2 separate regions of the Homo sapiens genome follow, and region 2 is linked to region 1. The links come from fine-mapping of genetic effects on gene expression. A gene starts in region 1. The other region holds a variant in brackets. All regions are shown on one strand. Distances are between the middles of the regions.

Region 1 (9,019 bases):
AAAAAGTGTACGTATAAGAAAAGGTACTAGAAGGGAAGGTCCCAAAATATTGATGGTAGTTATTTTTGACTGGTGGCTTTATAGTGACTTACATTTTTTCTTGTGTTTCTAAATTTTCTATGAACAATTCAAGTACTACTAGTAAAATTAATCCCCATCCCACTGTATGAATGGTAATTCCCATCCCATTATAGCCTGTTTGATTTATCATTTGTGTTTACAAGTCTAAAATAACTGTGATTTTTTATCCTGCCATAGGCAGGATGGCAAGCACTACTCTTCATATACTTTTGGTACCAGCATCAGTTTTCATTCAACAGTACTGTTCAGAACACTTTGTTGGTGGGCCCAGCTTTTCAAAGCCCTCTTCAATCTCTTGCCACCCTCCACAACAGACACAGGGCTTCAGGCCAGCTGTGTCCCTAATCCGCCCACGTCCCAGATTTGGGTATGGTTTCCCCGCCCCTCCCCGCTTTCTTCCAGTCTCATCTCTACCAGGTCATCTGAGGCCTCATCTACACTCCCTGGCCTTCCCCACTGGTCACCACCTAATTTCACCATCTAATTTCACCCTCTTATGTGCAGCTGGTGTTTGCTTTTGCTTGGGCTCAGTTTGCTGTGGGGAAGGATTAAGACCCTTTCACACTGTCTTTTTTTTTCTTTTTCTCTTTTGCTTACTGCCCTTGACTGCTCCAGGGGCTAACAGGCAGCTAGCGGGGCCTGTATTCCCTAGGAAGGAACACAAGGGGTAGGGGGTGGGGAGGTAATGGTGGGCTCAGCTGGCAGGCGAGATAGAGATGGTCCTTAGGGACCCCATCCTGGGGCTTGGGGCATAGCACAGCTGCCACCCAGATGTGAGCATGGAGCAGAGCTGTTTCTGCCTTGGAAATTAGCCTCAGAGACGGTGCTTGGGACCTTTACCCTTGGTACCTGATGGCAGTCTCTGCAGGGTGAGCTGGGACTGGATACCTGGTTTGCAGAAGTCTGAGAGGGCAGATGGGCCCAGGAGTAAAGGTAGTTTTTCCACCTTCATATTAGGCATTACTTATACCCCCACATCTTCCTATGTGATAGGCCTGGCAACACTCAGAGATTGGGCACTTAGCCTAACAACTGAAGATGTGTGTCTAAAATAACAAAAATTCCTCATGTGTGGATAGTACTTTACAGTTTACAAAGCCCTTTCATCTCCAGGCTAAGAATTAAAAGCCAGCACTGGAATTCAGGTCTTTCAGATTCTAAAGCCTGAGTCAATGGATTATGGTGTGTTATTGCATGGCACTCTGAATTTCAGAGTAGTTCATACCTGCCTTGTGTCTAGCCTTTTGCTGTTAGCCTGAGACCTCTACTTATTTGCAGAGTAAGGATTATTAAATGCTACATATTCTTTGCATCCAATTAGATGTGCCATTGGCTAGCACTTCATGGCATAGAGAATACTGGGCTTTCATGAATCTGAATTTGCTGGATAACTTGGTGGTGGTGGAGATGGTAAACCACTGGTAATTGGTCTTCTATACTCATCCTTCAAGGTACCAGATTTTCCTGTCTGATTGGTGAAGGAAGCCTGAGGCACAGAGGTGGTAGGACTAGAACTCTGAATAAAAAGCACAGCTGAACCTGAGGACTTGAGGCAGGAGACCAGAGTATTTAAGAACAGGTGTGGCCAGGCATGGTGGCTCATGCCTGTAATCCCAGCACTTTGGGATGCTGAGGTGGGTGGATCACCTGAGGCTGGGGGTTCGAGACCAGCCTGACCAACATGGAGAAACCCCATCTCTATTAACAATACAAAATTAGCCAGGCGTGGTGCACATGCCTGTAATCCCAGCTACTCACGAGGCTGAGGCAGGAGAATCGCTTGAACCTGGGAGGCAGAGGTTGCAGTGAGGTGAGGCGAGATCGTGCCATTGCACTCCAGCCTGGGCAAAAAGAGCGAAACCCCTTCTCAAAAAAAAACAGGTGCTTCACCCCTCATACACAGAATGACCCTGGCCAAGTCACCTGACCTCACTAAGACTCAGTTTCCTTATATGTAAAATGAGGATGTTCATTAACTCATTCAACAAATATTTATTGAGCGTATACTGTTCTGGGAGATGAATACAGATACAGTCCCTGCCTTCCTGAGCTTGCAGTCTAGTGGGTCTAGATTACAGCAATTTATTTGAGAGGCACAATAAATAATAAATATATAGTAGAAAGTCAAGTAGGGTAAGTGCTATGAAGCAAATTAAAGCAGGATAAGGGTGTTTGAGTGGAGGGTGTTTTAGATGGTATAGTCAGGTGGTTTTCAAGGGGTTTTATGATGTTTCAAATGGACAATTTACATAACGTGCTCAGCTCAGTGCTAACAACAATTGCATGCTTAACAAATATATTATTATATTTGCCAGTTCCACACCTCTCAGTCCACATTTTAGTCTCTGAATAGTAATAATAATTAACACACATAGATCTTACTATGAGCTAGGCACTGCTCTAAGTCCTTTACATATTTTAACTCATTTAATTCTGTTTTCCTTTTTCTTTTTTTTGAGATGGAGTCTTGCTCTTGTCACCCAACCTGGAGTTCAATGGCATGATCTCGGCTCTCTGCAACCTCCACCTCCTGGGTTCAAGTGATTCTCCTGCCTCAACCTCCGAGAATAACTGAGATTACAGGTGCCTGCCACCAGGCCCAGCTAAGTTTTGTATTTTTAGTAGAGATGGGGTTTCACCATTTGGCCAGGCTGGTCTCGAACTCCTGACCTCAGGTGATCCGCCTGCCTCAGCCTCCCAAAGTTCTGGGATTACAGGCATGAGCCACCATGCCTGGCCTAATTCTTACAGTAACTCTGTGAGGTGGGAACTATTATTATCCTTCTCCCTCCCCCAACCCTCGTTTTTGTTTTTAGGGATGGAGTCTTGCTCTGTTGCCCAAGCTGGAGTGGAATGGCATGATCCTAGCTCACTGTGGCCTTGAACTCCTGTGCTTGAGCAATCCTCCCACCTCAGCCTCCCACTATAGGTGGGAGTCCCAGCTACTTGGACATATTATCCCCTTTTATGGTGTTGAAAAATGAGGCACAGCCGGGCGCGGTGGCTCAAGCCTGTAATCCCAGCACTTTGGGAGGCCGAGAAGGGCGGATCACGAGGTCAGGAGATCGAGACTAACACGGTGAAACCCCGTCTCTACTAAAAATACAAAAATTAGCTGGGCGTGGTGGTACACGCCTGTAGTCCCAGCTACTCGGGAGGCTGAGGCAGGAGAATCGCTTGAACCCGGGAGGCAGAGGTTGCAGTGAGCCGAGATTCCGGCACCGCACTCCAGCCTGGTGACAGAGCGAGACTCCGTCTCAAATAAATAAATAAATAAATAAAAGAAAAATGAAAATCAAACCATTAGAAAAGGCTGGAGACTAAGAATTGAACCCAGGCAATCTGTTTCCAGAGGCTGTGCTGGGATCGTGAAGGGGCTGTGATTAGATATCAGGAATGTCTAGCTGGCATCTACAGACTCTGCTGTCAGATGGCCTGGCTTCTTATCCTGTCAGTTTTAAGTCTCTCTGCTTCAGTTTCCTCATCTCTAAAATAGAACACCAGATCCTATCTTACCTTCTAGGTATCATGCTTAAAACAAAAGCCTTCTTTCTGCACTGTGGGTCCGAAGCCTGTTCACAGACCAGCCTAGCAGGGAGTAGGAAGGGTCAAGGGGTCTCTGACACTTCTGGAAGGAAATAAAGACACACTAAGCAATTGTCAGAGCAACCCTCAGTTCATCTGGAGACCAGACCTCGGAAGCTAGGTCTTTATAATGTTGAGATTGCCAGGGGGGAATTAGGAGATCCTTAAATGCAGAAGACAGGTTCAATCTTGGCGTGGTCTCAACACTTAGCTTCCATTTCAGGCCTTACACAGCTGGCACGAGAGGTAAAGTCTCATCGAATGTCAGGGTTGGAAGGGCGCCTAGAGACAGTCAAACTAGTGGATGGGGAAACTGAGGTACAGAGAAGCTGAGTGACTTACCCGAGGTCACTAAGCGTTTAGGGGGAGTCAGTTGGGGTAGCCTGGCTACAACCTCTACGCGAGTTACTTCCCTGAGGCTTCCAAATCTCGGCCTCTTACTTGGAAGGAGGAAAGGGCCTCACCGTCCAGGGCTCTAGCTGCCTCATGCCCCACGTGGGTGCTGCGGGATCCCGGAACACCCCGGCTCCAGACCGGGTTCGACTTGCGCGTGCGCACACGCGGCCAGCCCCTTGCCTTTTCCTCTCTCTTTTTCGTTCCCCTCTCCTCTCCTTACCGGCCTAGGGGAGGGGGGAAACAAGGGGAGCTAGAAGTTGGCCTCAGCCAATGGGCGGACGGGCCGCGGGCCCGGCCCCCTCCTTCCCTCCGGCGCGGCCCAATAGAAATTTACTACAATGTTGTGGCGAACTGAGGGGGAGGGGCGCGGGCCGGCGGGCGGGCTGCGGGCCGGGCTGGCCTCGCCTCGCAGAGGGAAGGCGGGAGGGCGCGCGCCAGGGTCGCTCGCTCGCTCCCTCCCTCCGCTGGTGCGTTTAGTCAGTCAGCCAGCAGCAGCCGGCGGGCCCGCGAGCCGCAGAGGGCCCGAGCCTCGGACGCCGGCGCCTCCTCCTGCCATTGTTCGTCGGGCTGCAGCAGTGGCGGGCGCAGGAGCCCGGCCCCGGAGCCACCGGTGAGGCGAGGCGGCGGCGGCGGCGCGGGAGCCGGGGCGGTGGGCGTGGAGCTGTCCCCGTGGGGACGGTCCTGGCGGCCGCGGCGGCGCTGCAGCCTCTTTGTCTGCAACCCCCGACAGGCCCCGGGCCGGGGCGCGGGCTCTCCCGCGGAGGAGCCTCGTGTGCACGCCGAGTCGCCAGCCGGGACGCGGCCCGAGGAGCGAGGGGCGGGCCAGAGCCGCTGAGGAAAGGGGAAGGGGTTGCGTCGCGGGAGTGTTGGAAAGTTAGGCTTGAGATGTATTTTTGACGGTCCCCTCGGGTGCGTCAATCACGGTGCGGTGTGCAGGAGCCTCGGGAGGAAACCAAATGCGGAGAATCGCAGGTTTCAGACGGTGAAGGTGTTGCGTGCAGCCGCGGAGCGATTTCTTCCTGGCGAGGGAGCTGGGCTGTCTGCAGAAGTCAGGCGGAATCTGAGGACTGCAGGGAGCCCTGGCAAGACTTCGCAGGCCTTCCCGCCACCGACGCCTGCATCATTGAAAAACATGTTCCCCCTTAGTCTTCTGGGTTCCCAGCGAGCAGAGGGTTAAATCTATTCTCTCAGCGTCGTGACCTCCTTTTTCAGTTCGCGCATCTGTCGGCTTGGAAATCTTCCTCCGTGCTCGCTGGGCTGCTGTACCTGTGGAGAGGCCGGGTCTGGGCTCGCCCTCCGAGATTGACCAGCAGGCCATTATTCCTGGGGAGGTTTTGCCAAAACAGGTCATGCTCCCCAAGAACAGGCATTCTCTTGAGAAAAAGTGATCTCACGTGAAACAGATTGCTGATGGACTGGTTTCTGGCCACATGATAGCGACTGTCATCCTGTTGTTTCTTTAACTGTACCCTGTACCCTGCCATAAATGACTAGTCTGTGGAGACTTGTTTTTTGGCATGTAGTTGTTCATTAGGAGATAGTTTTTTCTTTTTCCTTTTTTTTTTTCAGATGCTTTTTTTTTTTTTTTTTTTTGTAGTCTGGGTGATTTCACAGCTGCTATTTTCTTCCCTTCTGTTTTTAGGGAAAATTGCAAGAAATGGTTGTGTCTTGTGTCTTGGATATTATTATAGTGGATTTATACTCTCTTGAGGATGTACTGTAGTCAATGCTGTTGCTCATTGTTGTTTTCTGTATTCTCAGTCCTGGCAAAAATTTTAGTTGGTTTGATCCCTTTAATCAAAAGCAGGATATATAGCCCGTATATGTTTCTTCCCGTCCCAGTTTTGTTAATGTAGCACTAACCCCTACTTTTTATGGAAACTTGATGTACTCTTCATTTTCCTTTTCTGTAAATTGAAAGTGTAATCAGTTCTTCGCCAGTTGTAAAATTTTTGGTTTGGGGTGTTATTAATATAATCCATGTAGCGTACATGCTATCTGGCGTACAGTAAGCACTCAATAAATGGCAGATTCAAAAATAGATGTAATAACTGAACACCAGATTGCCTTAGAATCAAAGTAGTTAATTCAGTGTGCTTTCTATAAGAAGCTTATAATTAAGGTAAATATAGATATTATTCATACACCTGGGGAAACAAGTACAGTATATCTTTGGCACTATTAAAAGTGAACTATGTCGGGCACGGTGGCTCACGCCTGTAATCCCAGCACTTTGGGAGGCCAAGGCGGGTGGATCACTTGAGGTCAGGAGTTCGAGACTAGCCTGGCCAGCATGGTGAAACCCCATCTGTACTAAAAATGCAAAAAAGTAGCTGGGTGTGGTGGCATGTGCCTGTAATCCCACCTACTCAGTAGGTGGAGGCAGGAGAATCGCTTGAACCTAGGAGGCGGAGGTTGCAGTGAGCCGAGATTGCACCACTGCACTTCAACCTGGGCAACAGAGCAAAACTGTCTCAAAAAAAGGTGAACTCATTGTTGAACATAAGTTCAGAATGCCAACCTTCTGATTCCTCTGTCTTCTACCAACAAAACTATACATTTTTCCTTGTATGTTTGAATTCAGGCTTAGAAATAAATGTTTTTAATCTGTAGGTTTTACCAAAATTCTCCCAACAATTTTTTTTTTTTTTAAACAGGGTCTCATTCTGTCACCCAGGCTGGAGTGCAGTGGCATGATCACGGCTCACTGCAGCCTTAAACTCCTGGGCTCAAGTGATCCTCCTGCCTCAGCCTCCCTAGTAGCTGGGACTATAGGCGTGTGCCCCCATGCTTGGCTAATGTCTTTTTATTTTTTGTAGAGACAGTCTCACTATGTTGCCTAGGGTGGTCTTGAATTCCTGGACTCAAGAGATCCTCCTCCCTGGGCCTCCCAAAGTGCTGGGATTACAGATGTGAGCCACCTCACCCGGCCTCTCCCAACATTTATTAAGTGTTTTATACCAAATGTCTTGTAAGTTCTTATGCAATATGGCTACAATCTACCTTTCCACCTTTATTCTCCTTATTTTTTGTATTGTGCAACCAAATAGAACTACTCTGTAATAACCCTTGCTTTGCCATCTCTCTCTCTGTGTGTGTGTGTGTGTGTATGTGTGTGTGTGTATTTATTTATTTATTTTGAGATGGAGTCTTACTCTGTCACACAGGCTGGAGTGCAGTGGCATGATCTCAGCTCACTGCAACCTCCACCTCCTGGATTTAAGCAATTCTCCTGGCTCAGGCTCCCAAGTAGCTGGGATTACAGGCGCTTGCCATCATGCCCACCTAACTTTTGTATTTTTAGTAGAGTTGGGGTTTCACCATGTTGGTCAGTATGGTCTCGATTTCTTGACCTCGTGATCCACCCGCCTCGGCCTTCCAAAGTGCTGGGATTACAGGCATGAGCCACCGTGCCTGGCCCTGTATACATATGTTTTTAGAGACAGGGATCTTACCTTGTTGCCCAAGCTGGAGGGCAGTGGCATGATCCTGGCTCACTGCCGCCTTGAACTCCTGGGTTCAAGTGATTCTCCCACCTGAGCCTCCTGAGCAGCTGGGACTACAGACGTGCACCACCATGCCCAGCTTTTTTTTTTCGTTTTTAAAACACGGGGTCCTGCTATTGTTTCCCAGGCTGGTCTCAAACTGCTGGTCTCAAACTCCTGAGCTCAAATGATCGTCTCACCTCTGCTTCCAAAAGTGCTGGGATTACAGACATGAGTCACTGTGCCCAGCTTAGTCTGTATTACAGACATGAGCCACCATGCCTGGTGTGTAATTGTTGGTGTGAATGATAGAGTTTGCTTACTTTTTTTTAATGTAGTAATCCAGTTTCATATTGCTAATCTGATTTCATAACTTTAGAATATCAGTGGCCATGAGAGGCTGAGTTTGGTTCTGAAATCAAGAGGAGCATAGATGTAGACCACAGTCTGTTTCCTTGTTATCTAAGAGGCAGGACAGCATAAGTGTTGCCAGTGTATTTTTGTTTTTCTTGTCTTTTCTGTCTCAGCCTCCTGAGTAGCTGGGACTACAGGCACACACCACCACACCCAGCTAAATTTTTGTATTTTTAGTAGAGACGAGGTTTCACCATGTTGGCCAGGATGGTCTCCAATCTCTTGACCTCGTGATCTGCCCACGTCCGCCTCCCAAAGTGCTGGGATTACAGGCATGAACCACCACACCCAGCCAATGGCCTGTATTTTTCTGAGTTTCATCAAGTTTGTGTTTGGTTAAATGCATATTCAGATGTGGATTCATTGCTACCTCTATATTTGAATTTTTTCTTTAATTACTTGAACATGGAATCACTTTATTTTGTGAGCTAAACAACAATAATTCCAATAACTTTTCTTATGAATAACTTTGTTTTTTTCCTCTAAATAAAGCCCCCAAAGATGGCCTCTGAATTAATCAGTTATGGGCCTTATGTATGTGAAGGATCCAAAATTATTGAAAAGTAATTGCTAGCTAGGTGCAGTGGTTTATGCTTGTAATCCCAGCACTTTGGGAGGCCGAGGCCCACGGATCACTTGAGCCTTTGAGTTTGAGACCACTGCATTCCAGCCTGGGCAACAGAGTGAAATTCTGTCTCAAAGAGAAAAAAGAAAAAGTAATTGCTTGATTGCATTTATCATAGCATTTAGTTAGAGGAGAGGAGAGGCAGATGCCAAATGTATGTTATTTTTTGTTGTTCATTTAAGTTTCTTGGTATGTCACTGGTGGCTTTTACTGTGCGTCCTTTTTAAGAGTGGGTTCATGGTGTGTTTAGTCAAATGCAATATAACTTACTCTGGAGTGCACACTGGGTTAGATTAGTATTTTGATTTACTCTGCTGCTATTTAATGAATACATAGAAAGATAAAGAAGAATGCTGTAGCAGTGAGGAGTATTCAGAACTTGGAGGTGTTAGAAAGGAGAACTTTGATATTTTATATTGAGTGCTGATCTCAT
Region 2 (9,019 bases), 130 kb after region 1:
TGTGCTTCCATACTGTGAGTCATGCTTTTTTGTTTTTTTTGTTTTGTTTTGTTTTGTTTTTTTTGAGACAGAGCCTCACTCTGTCACCCAAGCTGGAGTGCAGTGGCACAGTCTCAGCTCACTGCAACCTCCGCCTCCAAGATTCAAGTGATTCTCGTACCTCAGCCTCCCAAGTAGCTGGGATTACAGGCATGTGCCACCATACCTGGCTAATTTTTGTATTTTTAGTGGAGATGGGGTTTCACCATGTTGGCTAGGCTAGTCTTGAACTCCTGGCCTCAAGTAATCTGCCTGCCTCAGCCTCCCAAAGTGCTGAGATTATAGACATGACACCCCCCAACTTTTTTTTTTTTGGTGTTTTTCTACTCTCCTGAGGGGCTGTTTTAATAGTAACAATACAAGGCATGTTGCATGCTTTGTCTTAATCTTCATGAAAACACTATGAACTAGGCTTGGAGATTAAAATGACTTTTCATAAGACGTGACATCTGGTAAATGGAAGTGCTAAGAGTGAAATTCAGGTTGGTTTAACTCCAAAACTCATGTTCTTTCAGATACATATTTATTACTTTGTTCAACAATTTTTCCTATGGGCCAGATGGTATTCCAGTCACTAGAGATACAGCCGTGAGCACACAAACATAGTCTCTGCCTTCATGGAGCTTACCTTCTGTCATTGGAAACAAAGAAGAATAAAACAAAATAATTTCAGATGGTGATGAATGCTGTGGAGAAAATAAAACAGGATGAGGGATATAGACTATCTGGGGATGGGGGAAATTAAGGAGTATTTCAGATTGGATGGTCCAATCTAATTTAGAAGGCTTCTTTGAGGAGCTTCATTTGAGCTGAGACCTGAATTATGTGAAGGAGCCGGCCATCTCAAAATCTGGGGAAAGAGCCTTGCAGAAGAGGGAGTAGCAAGTACAAAGTCCTGAAAGTAGGAATGAGCTTGCCATGTGTCTAGAGCAGTGCTGTCCCATGGACCTTTCTGTGCTGATGGAAATCTTTCATTTTGTGATATCCAGTTCAGCAGCCAATAGCTGCTAAGCTAAGAACTTGAAATGTGGCTATGTGCCTGAGGAACGGAATTTTAATTCCAATTTAAATAGCCACATGTGGTGTGTAGCTCACATATCAGACAGCATAGGTCTAGATTCCAGAAAATGAAGGGGCGAGGAGTACAAAATAAGTGAGGTCGGAGAAGTAGGTGGGAGCCAGATTGTATAGGGCCTTGTGGGTCACAGTAAAGAGTTTAGATTGTATTTCATTTGCACTGGGAAGCTATTAGAGGGAGTGATGCAATCTGAATCCCATTTTTAAAAGATCGCTGACAGCTGAATAGTCCATTGAAGTGTCAGTGAAAAGCAGGGCGAAGGCTGTTGCAGAGTCTGGGACAGCCTGGACTTGAGTGTTGGCAACAAAGACAGGGAAAAGTAGTCAGGGATACATTTGGAGATAGGGCTGACTGAATTGCTGACAAATTAAGTATTGGAGATGATAAGGAAAAGAAACTCAAGTTTTATTGCTTGGCTTAATCATTTAGTAGAATGAGAAAATCTGGGAGAGTAGCAGAGTTGGGGATATGGAAAATAAAAACTCCTACTGTGGATAAGTTAAGTTTGAGGCATAATCATTTAATCTTCATGTCTTTGCCATATTCAGATAACAATATCAGGCATCTCCCTCCTTGTCCAGTAAATCACCTTACTTCTAGTTTACCTTATGTGTGGGGAATTATCTTTTTATCCCCATTTTTCAGGTGAGAAAACTGAGGTTGGAAAGTTTAAGTGACTTGTTCAGCATCTCACAGACAGTAAGTTGCAAACTATGACAAAAATCCAGGTCTGTCTGATAGCATGTTCCATGGCTTTCCTTGCTAAATGGAGTTTCATGGTTATATAGATACTATGCCTGATGTATTGTCTTTTCCTGATAGCAAAGATAACCAAAGAGTCAAGTGTTAATGAGCTTTGGTACCTTGAACAAGTTAGAAAGCTTTACAGAAATCACATCTTGACTGCCTTATTACATTTATATTCTGAATTTTTTTTTAAGATGTATGGTCTTAACTTTTCATGGTAATTACCACAGTTCTTGCTACAGTGTATTTAATAAATAAATATTGGCTGGATGTGGTGGCTCACACCTGTAATCCCAGCACTTTGGGAGGCTGAGGCGGGCGGATCATTTGAGGTCAGGAGTTCGAGACCAACCAGGCTGACATGTTGAAACCCTGTCTCTACTAAAAATACAAAAATATTAGCCAGTTAGCTGGGCATGGTGGCACATGCCTGAATTCCCAGCTACTCAGGACGCTGAGGCAGGAGAATCGCTTGACCCCAGGAGGCAGAAGTTGCAGTGAGCTGAGATCGCGCCTGCACTCCAGCCTGGATGACAGAGTGAGACTCCGTCTCAAAAATAACAATAAAATAAAATAAAATACCATTCTTTCCCTACTGCATTCCAGTGTCACCTTTGTTATAAATCAGGTGACCATAAATTTGGGAGTTCATTTCTGGTCTCTCTAATCTCTTGTATTGATCTTTGTGTACCCTTGTGTCAATACCACACTATCTTAATTATTCTAGCTTTTATAAGTGTTTAAATTCTCTAACAATATTCTCTAAGATTATCTTGGCTATTTTTAGCCCTTAGCGTTATCTTATATATTGTAGAATCAGATTTTCTATTTCCACTAAAAAAGTCTTAATACTTTTATTGGGATTTAGTTGATTATATGGATCAGTTTGGAGATAATTGGTATTATAATATTGAGTCTTCTGATTCACAAACATGCTATAACCCTCCTTTTGTTTGGGTTTCCTTTAATTTCTCTCAGTAATGTTTTGTGATTTTTGGTGTAGGTAACTTGTGCATCTTTCATTAGATTTATTCTTACAGATTTGATGTCATTTGCTATTTTATATTAATATTATTAGATAGGGTCTCACTCTGTCATCCAGGCTGGAGTGCGATGGAGCGATCACAAGTCACTGCAGCCTCAGTCTCCCAGGCCCAGGTGATCCTCCCACCTCAGCCTCACAAGTAGCTAGGACTACAGGTGCATGCCACCATGCCCAGCTAATTTTTTTTTTTTTTTTTAGAGACAGGGTCTTGCCATGTTGCCCAGGCTGGTCTCAAATTCCCAGGCTCAGGCAATCCTCCCACCTTGGCTCCCCAAAGTGCTAGGATTACAAGAGTGAGCCACCACACCCAGCCATCGTTTGCTATCTTAAATGGTATCTTTTGGTTTTTGGCTGGTTGCAGTGCCTCATGCCTATAATCCCAGTACTTTGGGAGGCCAAGGTGGGAGGATCGCTTGAGTCTGAGAGTTCAAGACCAGCCTGGGCAACATGGCAAGACCCTGTCTCTAAAAAAAAAAAAAAAAAAATTAGCTGAGCATGGTAGTGCACACCTGTGGTCCCAACTACATGGAAGGCTGAGGCAGGAGGATCACTTCAGCCTAGGAGGTTAAGGCTGCAGTGAGCTGTGCTTGTGCCACTGCACTGCAGCCTGGGCAACAGAGTGAGACCCTGTCTCTAAAATAAAATAAAATAAAACAAAATAAAATAAATGGTATCCTAAATTTTTTATTTTTTGTTCAATTGTTTTGGTACATAGAAATACAATTAATTTTTCTAGTTTGACCTTATACTCAGTAATCTTACTAAAAAAATTTTTTTT[T/A]AATTTAATTTTATTTTTTTTTTGAGACAGAGTCTCACTCTGTCACTCAGACTGGAGTGCAGTGGCACTATCTCGGCTCACTGCAACCTCTGCCTCCTGGGTTCAAGTGACTCTCCTGCCTCAGCCTCCTGAGTAGCTGGGATTACAGGTGCACGCCACCACCATGCCCGGCTAATTTTTTGTATTTTTAGTAGAGACGAGGTTTCACCCTGTTGGTCAGGCTGTTCTCGAACTCCTGACCTCGTGATCCACCCACCTCGGCCTCCCAAAGTGCTGGGATTACAAGCGTGAGCCACCACACCCAGCCCTAAAAAATTTATTATTAATTTTAATGGTTTATCTGTGGATTATTTGGGGTATACATTATTGTGTACTCAACATCAACTGAAAATAATGATTGTTGTATGTCTTCCTTTCCATCTCGCATTTTTAATTTCTTTAATTGCTTTGTTGCTGGCTAGAACGTCCAATGTAATGCTGAATACAAGCATTAATAACTATCATCTTTCCCAATTTTAGGGCAAAAGCTTCAGTATTTCATCAAGCTTCCTTATATGGTATTTTCTTTATCATATAAGGAAGTTGTCATTCTAGTTTCCTACACATTTTAATTGTGAATTAGTGTTACTTTTATCAAATGCTTTTTACTTCATCAGTTGATATAATAAAATGATTTTTCTCCTTTTTATGTTAATGTGGTATATTATTTTTACTTTCAATTTTTAAACGACCTAAGAATTTTTGGAGTAAGTTCGAATTGGTCGTAATACTCTTTTCTTTTTTATTGTTTTAGGATTTCTACAACTATTTTCATAAGAGAGATAGGCCTATAATTTTCCTTTTGTAATGTTGTGGTCAGGTTTTAGTTTCGAGTTTATGCTGGTCTCATAAAATAAATTGAGAAGAATTCCTTCTTTTTCTGTTCTCTGGAAGAGTTTGTTAAAGACTGTTGTCATTTCTTTGTTACTGTTTAGAAGAATTCGCCTATGAAGCCATATCTGGTCCTAGAGATCTCACTGTGGGAGGTTCTTTACTTACAGATTCAGTGTCTTTATTAGATAAGGGACTATTAAAATGTTCTAGTTCTTGTTTCAGTTTTGATAAATTGTGTTTCTTTTTTCTTTCTTTCTTTCCTTTTTTTTTTTTTTTTGGAGAGAGAGTCTTAGCTCTCTCAGGCTGGAGTGCAGTAGTGCCGTCATAGCTTGCTGTAGCCTTGACCTCCCAGGCCCAAATGATCCTCCCACCTCAGCGTCCTGAGTAGCTGGTACCACAAGTTCACGCTACCGCGCCTGGCTAATTTTTTTTTTTTTTTTTTGTAGAGACAAGGTCTTACTGTGTTGCCCAGGCTGATCTTGAACACCTGGGCTCAAGCAGTCCTCCCACCTTGGCTTCTCAAAGTGCTGGGATTATAGGTGTGAGTCATCGCACCTGGCCTAGTTGTGTTTTTCTAGGAAATGTGCATTTTATCTAAATTTCCAAATATATTTACATAAAGCTGGGTATCTTTTCAATATCTGTAAGAACTATAGCAGGGTCCACTTTTGCATTCCTGATATTGGTAAGTTGTACCTTTTTGTTTCGAATAGCCTTGGTAGAGGTATATTGATTTTATTAATCTTTTCTTTTTTATATTGTAAATTGACAATTTATGTATGTATGTATGTATGTATGTATGTATTTATTTTTGAGGTGGAGTTTCACTCTTGCTGCCCAGGCTGGAATGGCGTGATCTCGGCTCACTGCAACTTCTGCCTCCCAAGTTCAAGCGATTCTCCCGCCTCAGCCTCCCAAGTAGCTGGGATTACAGGCATGCGCCACCATGCCCGGCTAATTTTTGTATTTTTAGTAGAGACGAGGTTTCACCATGTTGGTCAGGCTGGTCTCTACCTCCTGACCTCAAGTAATCTACCTGCTTCGGCCTCCCAAAGTTCTGGGATTACGGGCGTGAGTGAGCCACCGAGCCTGGCTGACAATTTATAATTGTATATATTTATGGGGTACAAAGTAATTGTCTTAAGTTTTTCAAAGAACCAACTTTTGGTTTTGTTGTTTTTTTCCTATTATATATAGTTTAACTCATGCCAGCTGATATCTTTATTATTTTCTTTTTTTGAGACGGAGTTTTGCTCTCGTTGCCTAGGCTGGAGTGCAATGGCGTGATCTCGGCTCACCGCAACCTCTGCCTCCCAGGTTCAAACAATTCTCCTGCCTCAGCCTCCCGAGTAGCTGGGATTACAGGCATGCACCACCACGCCCGGCTAATTTTGTATTTTTAGTAGAGACGGGGTTTCTCCATGTTGAGGCTGGTCTCGAACTCCTGACCTCAGGTGATCCACCCACCTCAGCCTCCCAAAGTGCTGGGATTACAGGCGTGAGCCACCGCGCCCGGCCTATTATTTTCTTTACGCTTTTATTGAGCTTTTTTAAAAAAAATTCTTGAACTAGATACTCATTAATGTTCATTATTTCTTACAACTTAACCTTAGAATGTAAGTGACTTGCCTAAGGTTACATAGCTAGTTGGAAAGAATTAGAAGGGAATCCGGGACAATTCTCCTAGGCCCATGCTTTTTACTCTTCACCATGATGACTTCTTTTTTTTAGAAAGAGTAGAATAAAAGTTAATAGTCAATATTCCTTGAGCACTTAGTATGTTCCAGGCACTGTTCTATCTTTTAAGTATCTGAAGTGCATATAAACTGAATAGGACAATTTTTTTTTGTAGTTCTGTTTTTAAATGTCTTATTTTTCTCTTTGTACTATAGTATAAAAAGTGGAAATATGTCTGTGTAACTATTTTTCCCTCCTTTCCTTAGATACTTCTCTGTGCTCCTTAAAAGATACTTTTTCCCGTTGAGTCACCCCTCCCTTTTCAAAAGATTAATATAACTCTGTAAGCTAGAGATGGTGTATCAGGGAAACTTTTACAAGAATTGCTTTATAAGGGGTCTTATTTTAATGATAAAAATGAGCATTCCCTTCCTCTTCTGTTATGTGTGGTGCTTAGAGCATCTGCTTCACCAGCTGGAGTACCAAAACTGGTTCAGATCCCAGTTTTATGATAGAGTAGTAAGTTGCAAGCGTAGCTAATAATGATGACAAAGATTATATTTTTCTTGCACTTTTTGCTTTTCAAACCATTTCCATGTATTCCTATTTAATACTAGCAACTTAGTCAATAAGAGAAAACATTTAGGAATTACAGTTTTACTCATGAGGAAACTGGAGCACAAAAGAAAGGGCCACACAACCAGGTAGTTCATCCATTCAGTGAGCAGTGGTTACAGTGATTCTTGCCAGGGGTGTACATCCTTATCACCTTTGGAGCTTTAAAACAAAACACATGCCCAAGCCTCACTCTTGGATAGCTCATCTCACTAGAGTGGGCCTGAGCATCATCTGATTTTTTTGTTTTTTGTCTTGAAAAACAAACATTGTATCAGAGGACACAAATGATTTATGTGGTCCTCTGATAAAAGAACCACCCTACCGCATACTAGCAGAAATTGTGCTAGTAAATAACAGCTAGAAGTAGAAGTTGTTTGCCTTTACTCAGTCTGATGGTTTGAATTTTATTCTTTACTGCTGTAGTATATAACTATCTAAGTTTCTGTTGTCAGCCAAGAGCAATATAGTATTGAAGTTAGTGGGTCACCATCAGCATTTTTCTTTATGTAGACCCTCAGATATGGGAGATACTGGATTTTTAAAGTTATGTATTGTCTATATATGCACCAAAATCTTGTAAATATTAACAGCTGAATTAATAAAACTGAAGACCCACACATCTTAAAAAGCAATCCTTACCCCCAACACTGTGAATATACTAAAAAGCATTGAATTATATATTTTAAATGAGTGAACTGTGTGGTATGTGAATTGTATCTCAAAAAAAGCTGTTAAAAAAAGCCATGATCACTACCATGATATTATAGAGTTAATATCTTCCATATTTTACAGATGATTAAACTAAAGTTTGTAAGATTAAGCTCCACGCCTTAGGCACACTACTATATGTGACTGAGTGTGGGCCTAAGACTCGTGATTTGGCTTTTGCCTCTGTTCCACGCAGCCTTTCACAGCCAGAGCTTTTTATTGTAATGTTATTATTTTTCCAATCTGTGAACTCTGTTTCTGTCAGTTTCCACACTAATACCTTCTTTTCCACATACAGTACAGATTGCCAAGGCTAGGAATGCTGAAGACATAAATCATTTGGCTCTGCAGTATTAGTACTGGATTGAAACCAAAGACAAGTGGCAAAATAACACATGGTGAAAGCATGGGCTAAGTTTCTATGATGCCAGGCATAGTTGAATTAATTCTTTGAGAGGAGGTGTGAATACACATGTATAATGATACTTAAACACAACTGTGAGCAAAATATTTTGTCACATTCCCCTGTGTTGTCAGGTTTGGTCTGCCATCTGCCACTCTTGCAGTGACTGCTTAAAGCACCCATTAGTAGTAGCTCTGTGCTAATCCAGAGTTATTACTACTAACCCAGTAGTAGCAATCTGTGCAAGAGGCCGCAGATTTTTCATGGAAAGATAAAGGAGATCCTTTTTTTTTTTGAGACAGAGTCTTGCTCTGTTGCCCAGGCTAGAGTGCAGTGGTACGATCTCGGCTCACTGCAAGCTCCACCTCCTGGGTTCAGGCCATTCACCTGCCTCAGCCTCCCAAGTAACTGGGACTACAGACGCCCGCCACCACGCCCAGCTAATTTTTTGTATTTTTTAGTAGAGATGGGTTTCACTGTGTTAGCCAGGATGGCCTCAATCTCCTGACCTCGTGATCCACCCACCTTGGCCTCCCAAAGTGCTGGGATTATAGGCGTGAGCCACCACGCCTGGCTGATAAAGGGGATTCTTGAATTTCTGCTGTTTTTCCTATATATCCGCTAAGGAATTAGTTCTTTCATTGGAAATTATGACAGAGTAATGAGCATTTCTTTCTTTTTCTTTTTCTGTTTTTTTTTTTTTTTTTTTTTTTTTTTTTGGAGACAGTCTGGCTCTGTTGCCCAGGCTGGAGTGCAGTGGCACGATCTCAGCTCACTGCAACCTCTGCCTCTCGGGTTCAAGTGATTCTCCTGCCTCAGCCTCCCGAGTAGCTATGACTACAGGCGCCCACCACCACACTTGGCTAATTTTTGTATTTTTAGTAGAGACGACGTTTCACCTTGTTGACCAGGCTGGTCTCGAACTCCCGACCTCAGGTGATCTGCCCACCTCGGCCTCCCAAAGTGCTGGGATTACAGGTGTGAGCCACCGTGCCTGGCCAAGCATTTCTTTCTTAATATTGTTGTATGAAGTAGTTGGGAATTTAAAGTTTT

The links.
Region 2: its variant is fine-mapped to the expression of EPB41 in whole blood (TOPMed, PIP above 0.99).

Annotation. Positions count from the first base shown.
Region 1 is chr1:28,910,097-28,919,115 of GRCh38, forward strand. It overlaps EPB41 (erythrocyte membrane protein band 4.1), which reads left to right and starts at 4,473. Exons shown (of 21, transcript NM_001376013.1): 1 at 4,473-4,672. RefSeq lists a silencer at 4,238-4,897 and an enhancer at 5,118-5,277.
Region 2 is chr1:29,042,433-29,051,451 of GRCh38, forward strand. The region is part of intron 11 of EPB41 (erythrocyte membrane protein band 4.1); the gene reads left to right. Among named protein-coding and RNA genes, the nearest start is that of TMEM200B, 77 kb to the right of the region's middle. The variant T/A (reference allele first, on the strand shown) is at 3,688.